Regions from separate parts of the Homo sapiens genome. Here region 1 is linked to region 2. Evidence: fine-mapped QTL for protein levels in blood plasma. A gene starts in region 2. The other region holds a variant in brackets. All regions are shown on one strand. Distances are from middle to middle.

Region 1 (5,369 bases), 84 kb after region 2:
GCCATTTGCAGCACAGTGATCCATAATGGTTTGTTTACAATTATTTAGTAAATCTTTATAGAGTGCCTATGAAGTACTGGGTGCTGTTGTAGGTAGAGGGAGTATGTCACTGTGCAATAAACGATCCTGCCCTCATGCGGACCATATTCTCACATCTCTCCTCCGTAATCCTAGCACACAGGCCCAGTGCCTGGCCCATTTGGGGTGCTTAGTACGTTTTGGAGGTCACTTCCAAGTGTTTCAGGTATAGTAAATTGTTCCTTTACAGAGAACTCCCCACTTCACACAGAAGGTAGACTAAAGTAAGGCAGAGAAATCCAAATTCCAGAATTTGAAGACTTTTAAAGTTCCATTCTAAATGAAAAGAAATTAAAATGAGCCAAGAAAAGAATAGGCATAGATTTCCACAAACTATTCACCCTAGAGTTTTGGGGACACTGGACACCAGATCAGCAGGATAAGCTGGGAATAAGGAACTGGTACCAGTAGATGGAGGCCAGGTACAGATCTTCTGAGCTGGGAAAATTGTTCTCTTTGGCCTCTGAGGGGTCAGGCACAGTGACCTTCTCCAAGTGGTAGGCTTTGGGGAATGAAGGAGGCGGTCCACAAGGCAAGGGCAGAGGCAGGGCAAGGCCACTGAGGGAATGAGGAGACCTCTAGGCAGTCAGGGTCCCATGAGGATATCTCCCCACTGTATCACTACTTACATGGTCTTCTGGGCTTCCCTGCTGCTGCTACAAATCCATCAGAGGTCTGTGATGTTGAGGCCAGGGTCAGAAGTTCTGTCCTGAATGTTGAAAACATGCACCCCAATTTTCCTCAGAAAGAAACCAGACAAGGGTTTGAAAAAAGACCAGACACTCCATCGTCTTTATATGATCATAAACTATAAAAAGGCAACTGTATGTCACCTAAGGGCAGTCTTGCATAGCAGAAAGAGCTCCAGCTTTGGATTTGAGGGTTTCAGTATTAGCTAAATTGCTGAAAACCATCAAAGAGCACAGCATAATAATTAAGAACAAGGCTCTGGTCTCACATTGCCTGGATTTTTGTTTCCACTTATTCATTGTGTGATGTTGGCCAAGTCACCCAGCCTACCAAATCTCAGTTCTGGGAATCTCATAGGATTGTTTTGAGGGTTAATTAAGCCATTAAGATTGAATCAAGCATTTAGCACACTGCCGAGAATGTAATAAGTACCCAATCAATTTTAGCTTTATTGCCACTATTAACAATGAGGTCTTAGACAAGTTATGTAATGCCGCTAGGCCTCAGTTTCTCCATCTGTAGAATGGGGATGGCAATCTCCAATCATCAAACCACAGTGAGGCCTGGAGCAGAAGGTTCTTGGTACATCGAAGATGCACTATAGGTGGCAATCCTCCCTTTTTGTTATGTGGGTTAATTCCTTCTGACTTTGGAATACCCCTGAGGAAATATAGTAGGAAGAACACTGTTTCATACTGCAATTTCTTGGTATGAGACTTTGCTACTCCCTTCTCCCACCCCAATTCCACCCTGGATAATTCCAGCTTAGAAAAAACTTACCTGGCCTATAACCTGGTATGTGGAGATGATTGTAGTTGCATTTTGCTTTGTGTTTGAGTCTGCCAGACTTCAGAAAGCCCAAATTTTAGGACTTGGTCCCCTCATTCCAGATGTTCAGGACAGCCTCCATCAGAATGCAATGAAAAGGGCTACTTGAGGAATAGGCAACTTCTGGGAACTGGGTAGGACTCCTGGGAGCCACGTTCACTGTCTTGGATGCCCTTCTTGCTCTCCAGGCAAGGGGACAATCTTAATAGCATCAACTTCAGATTTCAGTTCACTGTGGAGACTAAGGAAATCAAACCCAAGTCCTGGCCCCTGGCCTCTCCAGCTCCTTGGCCAGGGACCTTACAAGCTCCTGACTCTGGTGGTTTTCCACCATGAAGGGAATGTGACTCATTGCCAGTCCATCTGCCTTTACCTCAATTTTCAATTCCCGTCCTCTGTGTGAGTAATAGGATCAGTTGTTCGTACTTGCAAAGGAAGGATTTCATGCATGGTGAGATGGCAGCTCGAAGTTTATGGCTGAGGACAATTGACCCACTGGGAGTTGGAAGGGGCAGGGGCAGCAGGCAGCCCCCACCACACAGCCAGAACTGCTCTGTGTAATCAGACTTTTCATAGTGGGGTCAAGCAGCAAATCCAGTAGGAGAGGTGGAGCCCAGAGAGTCAGCGAGCTAATGACAGAGAGTCAGGCAAGCTATGCAATTATGGGATGTTCAGCACTAACACAGTCCAAACCTTAATGAGCCACAGTCCCTAGACTCCCAAAATTGAGAAGGGC[A/G]CTTATTATGTGGCGGCACCGTGACTGTGGCTGGTATTAGATGGGCTTGTGGTGGGGCCATGTGGGATTCACCAGGTCCAGTCTCCTTCCTGAGAAAGCTGGGGCCCCCTTCGATGGGCCCCTCTGCAAGGCCTGACCCCCACTTCTGCTGTGGCCCTGTGCTCTCCACTTGTCAGAGGCCACACCCTGTAATCAAACCAAATGAAAACAGTTCCTCCCTGGATGTGTTTCCTATCTCAGCGAGGGCAGCAGCTTCAGGAGAAACCAGGGGAGTCAACTTCGATTCTTTCCTTTTCTTCACACTCATATCCTATCCTGTCCCTCCCAGATCTTCCTATCCCATGCCATTGCCTTAGTTCAGGCTTCTGTCTTTCTTCTCTTTCTGTTTTATAACTATCATTTCCCAACAGGCTACTCTCCTGCCTAGGATTTAACCTGGCTGTGATTAATTTTTTACTGATTCTTTGCACAATTGTTGTCACTTCCCTGCTCTAAAATGCTTTTCGTGGCTCCAAGTTGTCTTTGGGATTAAATCTACATCCCTGATCATGGCATTCGAGATCTTTGATCAACTAGTCCCTGTTTCTCTCTTCAGACCCGTTCCTGGCCCCACCCTCAGAGGCCCCTGATGTTATAGTCTAGTGAAACTTCTTGCCATATGACTTTTTGACCATATGCCTCTGGGCCTTTGTACATGGTGTCTCCCCTATGTGGAAGTCTTTTTGCCTTTGTCATCCTGGCAACTCCTCTCCTCTAAGAACTAGGGCAAATGTCACTTCCTTTGTGTAAATATTCCCAGGCGAAGTCAGGCCCTCTGTCTTCTGTGATCGTAGTCTATCCTGCTCACATCTTCTTGGTAGTGTGGTGTTTAGGTGATAGAAGCTGAGACTCTGAACTCTAGAGGCCTGGGTTTGAGTAATGGCTCCATTATTTACTCACCATGTGACCTCTCCAAACAAAAGTCTCCTCATCTGTAAACGGGGGTAATAATACTACTTCCCTCACATGGCTGTGGGCAGGCTTAAAGGAGATAATATATAGAGAGGGCTTGGACACTGCCTGACTCCTTGCTGGAACTCAACACTTCAACTGCTCTTATAATTATAACCAGATGAATTGTTGGTGGTTTTTTTTTTTTTTTTTTTTTGCCTGTTTGGGTCTTGGCTGAGCTCTATGAAGGCTGGAATTTTCTCCTGTTCAACTTTGTAGCCTCAGCTCCTAGAACAGGGCTTGTTCTGAGCAGGCCCATGGAGAACACCAGGAGACTAGGTCTCCAGGCCTGGCCCCAGTGTGCACTGGCTGTAGGACTTGAGACAGGCAACTTCTCCTGGCCTCTTGCACCTGGGGGCCCGTTTGGAGGGCAGAGCTGCCAGTGCAGCCCCAGGTGAAGGATCTTTTGTCCCTGGGTCTGCCTACAACTGAAAATAGAGAATCCTCCTTAGGAGCCTGAGGCTTGGGAGTGGAGCCAGGGCATGGTGGAGGCAAGGTACCCAAGTGATGGCTGGAGGCTGATGGAGAGTTCTGGAGCCTTGTAGATGGTGGAGAGACTGGCTCTTGGAAACCCTCTAGTGGTGATTTCTATACCCTCACCTGCATTTCACAGAAGCATGCAGAGGTATCAGGATGGTAATGGGCACATTACGTCTGTGAATTATCCTAAATGTCCACTTTGGCAAATGAAAATATTCTCTTTAAAGTAGGGAGAAGAACAGAATAGAAAAAACAAAGCTAAACCATTTGTAGTCTATACATCAAATCCCATGTTACTGCCATGAAAATTCATGACAAACAATGGGAATAGCTGGATGTGTGTGTAAGAATGCATTTAAAATTTTTACCTGACAGTACTGCACATGACATTGGAACAGAGCACAGCCTAAAGCAGTTTAACATAACACTTAAGAACATACAGTCTAGACACTGATGAGCTGGGTTCAGAGCCAAACTTTGCCACTTGTGATCTGTGTGATCTCAGATATGTTATTTGGCCTTGCTAAGCTTCAGTTTCCTCATCTGTAAAAGTAAAATCATAAGAGTACCCTCCTCACAGGGTCATTGTGAGAATCAACTGAGATAATACATGTGAATCAATCCACATGATAATTGGCATAGGGCCCGTCCTCAATTAGTGCTATTATAATGATTATGGATTTTATCCCCCTGACCCTCACAACCCGATGAGACAGGACAGCAGCATAGGTTATTATTATTCCCACTTGAAAAATGTTTAAATGTAATTAAGTTCCATACATATACACCAGCTGCATCATTGGTGTGTCAGGTCCATTGCCTTGCAGATACTGTAGCATGTAGCATGGTGGCTTGTAGGTAGGACAAGACAGACACAAGATCTGCCCTGCATCATCTAGGGGGTAAGGCAGACATTTAAAAGTTGTTAAACAATTGAGACCAGTATAGATCAGAGGAGAGACAGAGTGCTTACAGACGTGTGGGGCACATGGGACATAAATTTGTTGAGGAGTCACAAAGGACTCCTTCAGAAGAGAGATCAAGGTCAAGACCTCAATGATGTGTAGAAGCCAGCAAGGTGAAGAGGAAGTGGGAGAGAGGGACCAGCATGTGCAAAGCCTGGGAGGCTGGAAGTCACAGTAGCAGGACTGAAATAACTCAGGGCTGGGACAATGGTTGGAAATAAGGGGGCAATGACCAGATCAGGAAACTGAGGCTCAGAGATGACAAGTGTCATGTGTAGGGGCACACAGCTATCAAGAGGAGGGAGTGGGAGGAGGGCACAGGTGATGGCTCCTAATCAGGTGTTCTTGTGGCTTATATCACCATAATGACTCTCATGCTGGCAATACAGATACACACACATACCATTTTTAGAGGTTAAAAAATAAGTCATTCATGAGTTAATGAAAGATCATAGAGTGTTAACAATGTCTTCTCTCAATCAGAGGGCATCTACAATGCTGGAGTTTGACAGTTAACAAGATGGGGCTCTGAGTCATTGAAGAGAAGGCAGCTGTCAGATGTACACATTGGCTCATAAGAGTGAAAACAGTTACCTGGAGCT
Region 2 (5,308 bases):
CTAGAGAGTAGAGATGGTTATCAGAGGCTGAGAAGGGTAATGGGTGGTGATGGTGGAGATGGGAATGGTTAAAGGGTACAAAAAAAATTGAATGAATAAGACCTACCATTTGCTAGCACAACAGGGTGACTATAGTCAATAATAACTTAATTGTACATTTAAAAATAACTAAAACAGTGTAATTGGATTGTTTGTAACACAAAGGATACATGCTTGAGGGGACAAATACCCTATTCTCCATGATGTGATTATTACATTGTATGCTTGTATCAAAACATCTCATGAACCCCATAAATGTATACACCTAGTATGAACTTACACAAATTAAAAATTAAAAAACAAAGCAGAACCAAAAACACAAAAGCGCATCCAACAGTCTAGACGTAGAGAACCTTCGCATACATAGAAATACTCCTTAGAGAGCTGCAGTTCCTGGTGTGGTACTACAAAGGTCCTGGAAGTCCTCCTGCCTTACTTCGAGTCCGCCACAGGCCGGAGCTACTTCTAGAACAGTTCTGACTGCCTTCCCAGGGGAGGGGGCGACTGCAGGTCACCCTGCCTCAGTGCACGCTGCGCATCTGAGTTGCAGGCCGGGCGGCAGTCACCCGAGTCAGCGGTCCCGATTCTTCGTGGGTGTTACCTGGAGTTTCCATTGCACGGGTGCTGGAGGCCAACCCGCCCTAGTCCCACCAGCTGGGTCCTGCCACAAGAAAAGGACCCAGAGGGCCTAGACAGATATCCCCTGAACTTTTTTCTGACCCGCAGAAACAGTGAGCATCACCTGCAGGGGTTCCGCCAGCCTCTGGCTTTGCTTCCTGCCCGGCAGCCTCCAGCAAGTTTTCCCGAATGCTCTCCAGGAGTGCAGTGGGCGCCGGCGGACTTATTTAGGGTCGCTGCTGCCAAGCGTCAGAGAGCGAACCGGAGGCCCGGGGCTGGGGGCTGTGGTGAGAGGCGCCCCTTTCTTTCTTGCCATCGCCCCTACCCCCAGCTCCTTCCTAGCCTATTCTGCCAAAGCTGGGATCTTCTCCTGGAACCCGGGAGCAAGAAGAGCTGGCAGTGCCGACTCCCAGAACCCGGCTTTCCTTCAGAAAAGATGGATAGGCCGAGTTTGTGTGCGTGGACGTGCATGTGTCGGTGTGCATGTTTAGGGGACAGTATGTACCCCCAATTGCATAAAACACGCCTGTTTTTGGAAACAGAAACACACGGGGTTGCTTTCGGGTATGGGTGTGGTTAGTTTGGGTTCCTGCGCACGCTCCCTTTTCGGAGCAGCTGGTGAGGGCGCATCTGTTCCAGTGAGTGCTGGCTGTCTGATGGACTGTCTGTGAATGCAGAAGGCAGAGCGTGTGGTGGGGGTCCTGCCATGTGAGTGATGATGCGCGCACTGGCTGGTCTGTAGTCGCGAGTGGAACTTGTGTGAAAATTCTCAGGCTGACTCTCGCGCTGCAGCACCTGCTCCCCTCCGTGGGTGGCAGCTGGACCCCAGCGCGCTCAGCTCTCAGGCGCTTCAGCGAAGTGGGGTAGGGGTGTGGAACGAGAGAGATAGAGACCCGGGCATAGACCATCTCCGCCAGGCAGCTTGGCAAACAGGTGGCAGAGTTGCAGGGCAGCTGTGTAAGCCAACTTCGGCGCAGCAGTGGAGGGTCCTGGCTTGGCGTGGGGGATGCTGGACCCGCGGTCGAGGATTTGGGGATATAGGGGAAGAGGGAGGAGGTGGATGCTGAGCCTTGTATGCAGGCTATGTCAGTTTAGCCCTCTCCCCAACCTCTCTTCGGCTCCTGCCCGTCCCAGAGGAGTGAGGTGGAGAAGGGCTGGCTGCCAGACTGGCACCAAAACAGCCTTCTTTGGGTGCCCAGGTTGCCAGGGCTCGAGGGGTCGGAGGATATCCAGGGAAGCACCCCAGGTGGTCCAAAAAGATCAAATTTTGAGGACCCCTCCCTCCCCTTTTCCCTCCCCCCCCCTCCTTCCCTGCCGTGGGCTCTTTCAGCTGTGGTCCCTTTAGAACCCAGGACTACTACTGCTCAACCTCGCTGGGGGTTCGGGTGGCTGGATTCGGGTCCCTCACTGGCGTGACAGGAGGGAGTGCGAGGCAGGAATTTAGGAGCCAAGGAGGTGAGAGCAGCTCTGGCCCCTCACTGTAGGTGACGCCAAACTCTCCTCGACTTGCCCCGACTCTTAGTTGAAAAATCTCTGTCCTCTCCCAGGCTCTCCAGCTTCCCAAGCAATGACCTCAATGAAAAAAATGACAGCGGGGCGGACTGCCCCCGCTCCAGAGTACCAGTGCCGGCAGTGCGAGCTATGACGCAATCGGAGCTCGGTCGGTCCTTTGATTGGCTAGTCCTGGCCACTTTGGATTGGCCGCGCGGGCTGGTGGGGACCCCCCCCCTCCAGCTATCTCTGTAATAAGAGCGGGGTCTCCGCGGGGAAGGCGCCCACAGCAGGTGTGGTGTTCATCCCGGGTCGACCGGCCGCTCGCGCTGCCCTGAAACTCTAGTCGCCAGGTGAGGAACTTCCCATTCCCCATTCCGCTCACTCGAATAACCTGCTTCTTCGACTAGTTCATCCAGTTTGCTCCATCTGCCTGTCTGCCTCTCCGCCGCCATCTGGTCCTACCTTACAGCGGTGGTCCTAGCTCTCTTCCAGGCCCCGTAGAAGGCGAGCGGTTAGGGTTGTCCTGGCAGTTTCTCCTACCAGTGCGAGAGGAGCCCAAGCATCCCCATGGCTCAGCGTGGGCGCTGGAAGCGCAGCGAGCGGAGGTAGGCGGGTCTGCAGCCCTGGCGTTGGGGCCTGGCTGAGCGCAGGATTCTGCAGAGTTGGGTCCGGGAGCGCCCTGCGCCGTCTTTGTCCTTCGGGAGCATGTTTCGTTCCCGGGAGGTCGGAACCCTGAGCTTTCCTCTGAGGCGCCTCCCTGGTGAGCCTTCCCGGGATTCCGGTCCGGATCTAAGGCAGTGTTGTTAGCGGACTAGAACCCTGGGCGCTCACCTCGCGGAGCTGCTGCTCAGCATCTGCTGCTAAAACGCGCTCCGGCAGAGGGCTGGCTTTGCGGGCGAGTCCTGAGACACCCGTAACTGGCACGTTAAAAATTTTTCCCAGTTCCAAGACTGAGAAATGAGCGCTCCTTTCCAATCCACCCTTCCCACCTTCCCCTCGCATGCGTTGGCGCGAAGCCCAGCAGAGGAGAAGGCGAGAAGGGGAGAGCAGGTCTACAGCAAGGTGCGTCCACGCCTGGTTTAGGCATAAATCAGGGCAGAAGTGTCTGTTTGTGTGCACGGGCGCGTGTGGCTTCTCCCTGGCCTTCAACAAAACAGAACCAAAATTCATCCTTTCTCTCCACCCTTCCCCTAGGACACCTTTTTCCGCTCTATCAAGCCATTCACTCACTGCAATGTGTCTCTTGAGATTCACAGCAGCCCTTCCTGCAAATGAAGGGAACAGAGGCTCAGGCAGCTGAAGTAACGTGCCTAAGGTCACATGGCAGTTGTGGCAGAGGCAGGACTGGAACCTAGATCTGTGCTGGTGCAGTAGTAACGTCATCCTTCCTTTACAGAGAGGCGGCATGGGTTTCCGGAAGTTCTCCCCCTTCCTGGCTCTCAGTATCTTGGTCCTGTACCAGGCGGGCAGCCTCCAGGCGGCGCCATTCAGGTGAGACAGCCTGGAGCCAGAGGCGCCTTCTGCTCCCACTGCCCCTAGGACCAGACAGCTCTGTGCCTCTGAAGTCACGCGTGGCTCCTGGTGAATCAGTGCCCACAGGTGGACCCTGGCCTCATGCCCGTCCCCTGGGAGTCGCGGTGGCCACATCCCCAGGGGAAGAAGCAGAGACCAGGAAGCCTGGCTGCCTATCCTGGGGAGGGTCAGTCAGGGGCTCACAGCCTGCAAGGAGTTTGCTTCCCTTCCACAGGTCTGCCCTGGAGAGCAGCCCAGACCCGGCCACACTCAGTAAAGAGGACGCGCGCCTCCTGCTGGCTGCACTGGTGCAGGACTATGTGCAGATGAAGGCCAGTGAGCTGAAGCAGGAGCAGGAGACACAGGGCTCCAGGTGAGGTTCCCCAAGCGCCCAGCACAGGGACTCCTCTCCCCGCAGCATACACAGGAAGGTGGATCCCAAGAGGCAGGAGAGAACACACTGGCAAGGGGTCCAGCAAGCTGATTTGTCCAGCAGGCTCCCTTTCTCAAGTTCCAAGGGAGACAGAGGTCCCAGTGCACCTGGAGGGACTGTGTGTGGTTAGACACAATAAAAAGCTCCGTTTCTGAAAGCTGTTAGAACATAGATGTAGAAGCTTTTTCTAGACATAGAAAAAACTCAATTTGTGAAAACTGATAGAAAATGAAATGGGGAGGTGTGGAATCGTTCACTGTGGAAATTGCTCTTGCAGTACTGGGAGATCTCCTAGCATTGGATGAGTTAAGACTGGTAAGGGTGAAGTCAGGAATAGACCCAATATCTCAGAAAGTTTTAGAAATTTCACATGTGCATGCCATTCTTTCATACCTGCAAGAAGCCTTCATTTCACATTTGCAAGGTGAAGATGAAGCCCTTGCAGGGGGTGGGGACAGAGCAGTGTCTGAGGTAGGTTTGAGCCTTTAGATGTGCAAGCTCTGTGGAGATGTGCATGTTGTCATGAGGCCAGGGAGAGCACCGTTTCCCAGACCCACATCCTTGTGCATGTTGAGCCTGAGCAGAGACCAACCCCTGGCCTGCTCCCAGCACTGCTGGGCAGAGGCATGTGTCACACCTACATTCACCCCGAGAACCTCTCTGTTGAGCATGAAGGGCTGAACATCATGGGAATACCAGAAAAGATCATCCTTCCTCATTCAGCCCTTCTCTACACTGCCCTGGCCCACTGACCCTCTCACCTCTCCTAATGGAGTGTGTGTGAGCTGCCCTCCTGCCTGCCCCACCTGCTCCCACTCGACATGTCCCCTGCCTGGTCCAACCTTCTGAGTGACTGCCCATGGGGACAGTCCCTAGTGCATGGTACTGTCTGGCATGTCCTTCCCTTGCAGCTTGAGCAGTCCTAGATTTAAGTAGCGTATAGTAATCTGAGTACCTGCTTGCAGGGCACATACTTGCAGTACCTGAAAAACTTTCATATGTTCCCTGGCATCAACTTCGGGCCTGAAATTCCTGGCAAGAATAGGGACATAGTCAACAGCTTGCAGAGGGACCACTACCCGACTCCAGGGTCCCCCAGATGGCAGCTGAACTTCTCTCAACTCTCCTGATTCCCCTTCTTGCTCCACTTTATGAACCTGATGCATGTGGATTCCTCTCTGATTTGTCTTCATGCTGGTATTGGTATTTTTG

Direction of the effects. Alleles are on the strand shown, and positions count from the first base shown. The strength of an association depends on the size of the effect and on how common the allele is.
With allele A in place of G in region 1, the plasma level of the protein whose gene starts at base 2,431 in region 2 is lower (weak association).

The links. PIP is the posterior inclusion probability: the model's chance that the variant is causal. The UK Biobank Pharma Proteomics Project read protein levels with antibody pairs (Olink). The fine-mapping took linkage between variants from a reference panel, not from the people measured, so its PIPs are less certain.
Region 1: its variant is fine-mapped to the plasma level of the CALCB protein (UK Biobank, PIP 0.97).

Annotation. Positions count from the first base shown.
Region 1 is chr11:15,155,403-15,160,771 of GRCh38, forward strand. All of the region lies in intron 2 of INSC (INSC spindle orientation adaptor protein), which reads left to right. Among named protein-coding and RNA genes, the nearest start is that of INSC, 43 kb to the left of the region's middle. The variant A/G (reference allele first, on the strand shown) is at 2,333.
Region 2 is chr11:15,071,163-15,076,470 of GRCh38, forward strand. CALCB (calcitonin related polypeptide beta) reads left to right here and starts at 2,431. Exons shown (of 5, transcript NM_000728.4): 1 at 2,431-2,501; 2 at 3,548-3,642; 3 at 3,899-4,036. The coding sequence starts at 3,557. RefSeq lists an enhancer at 3,333-3,834 and a silencer at 3,877-3,926.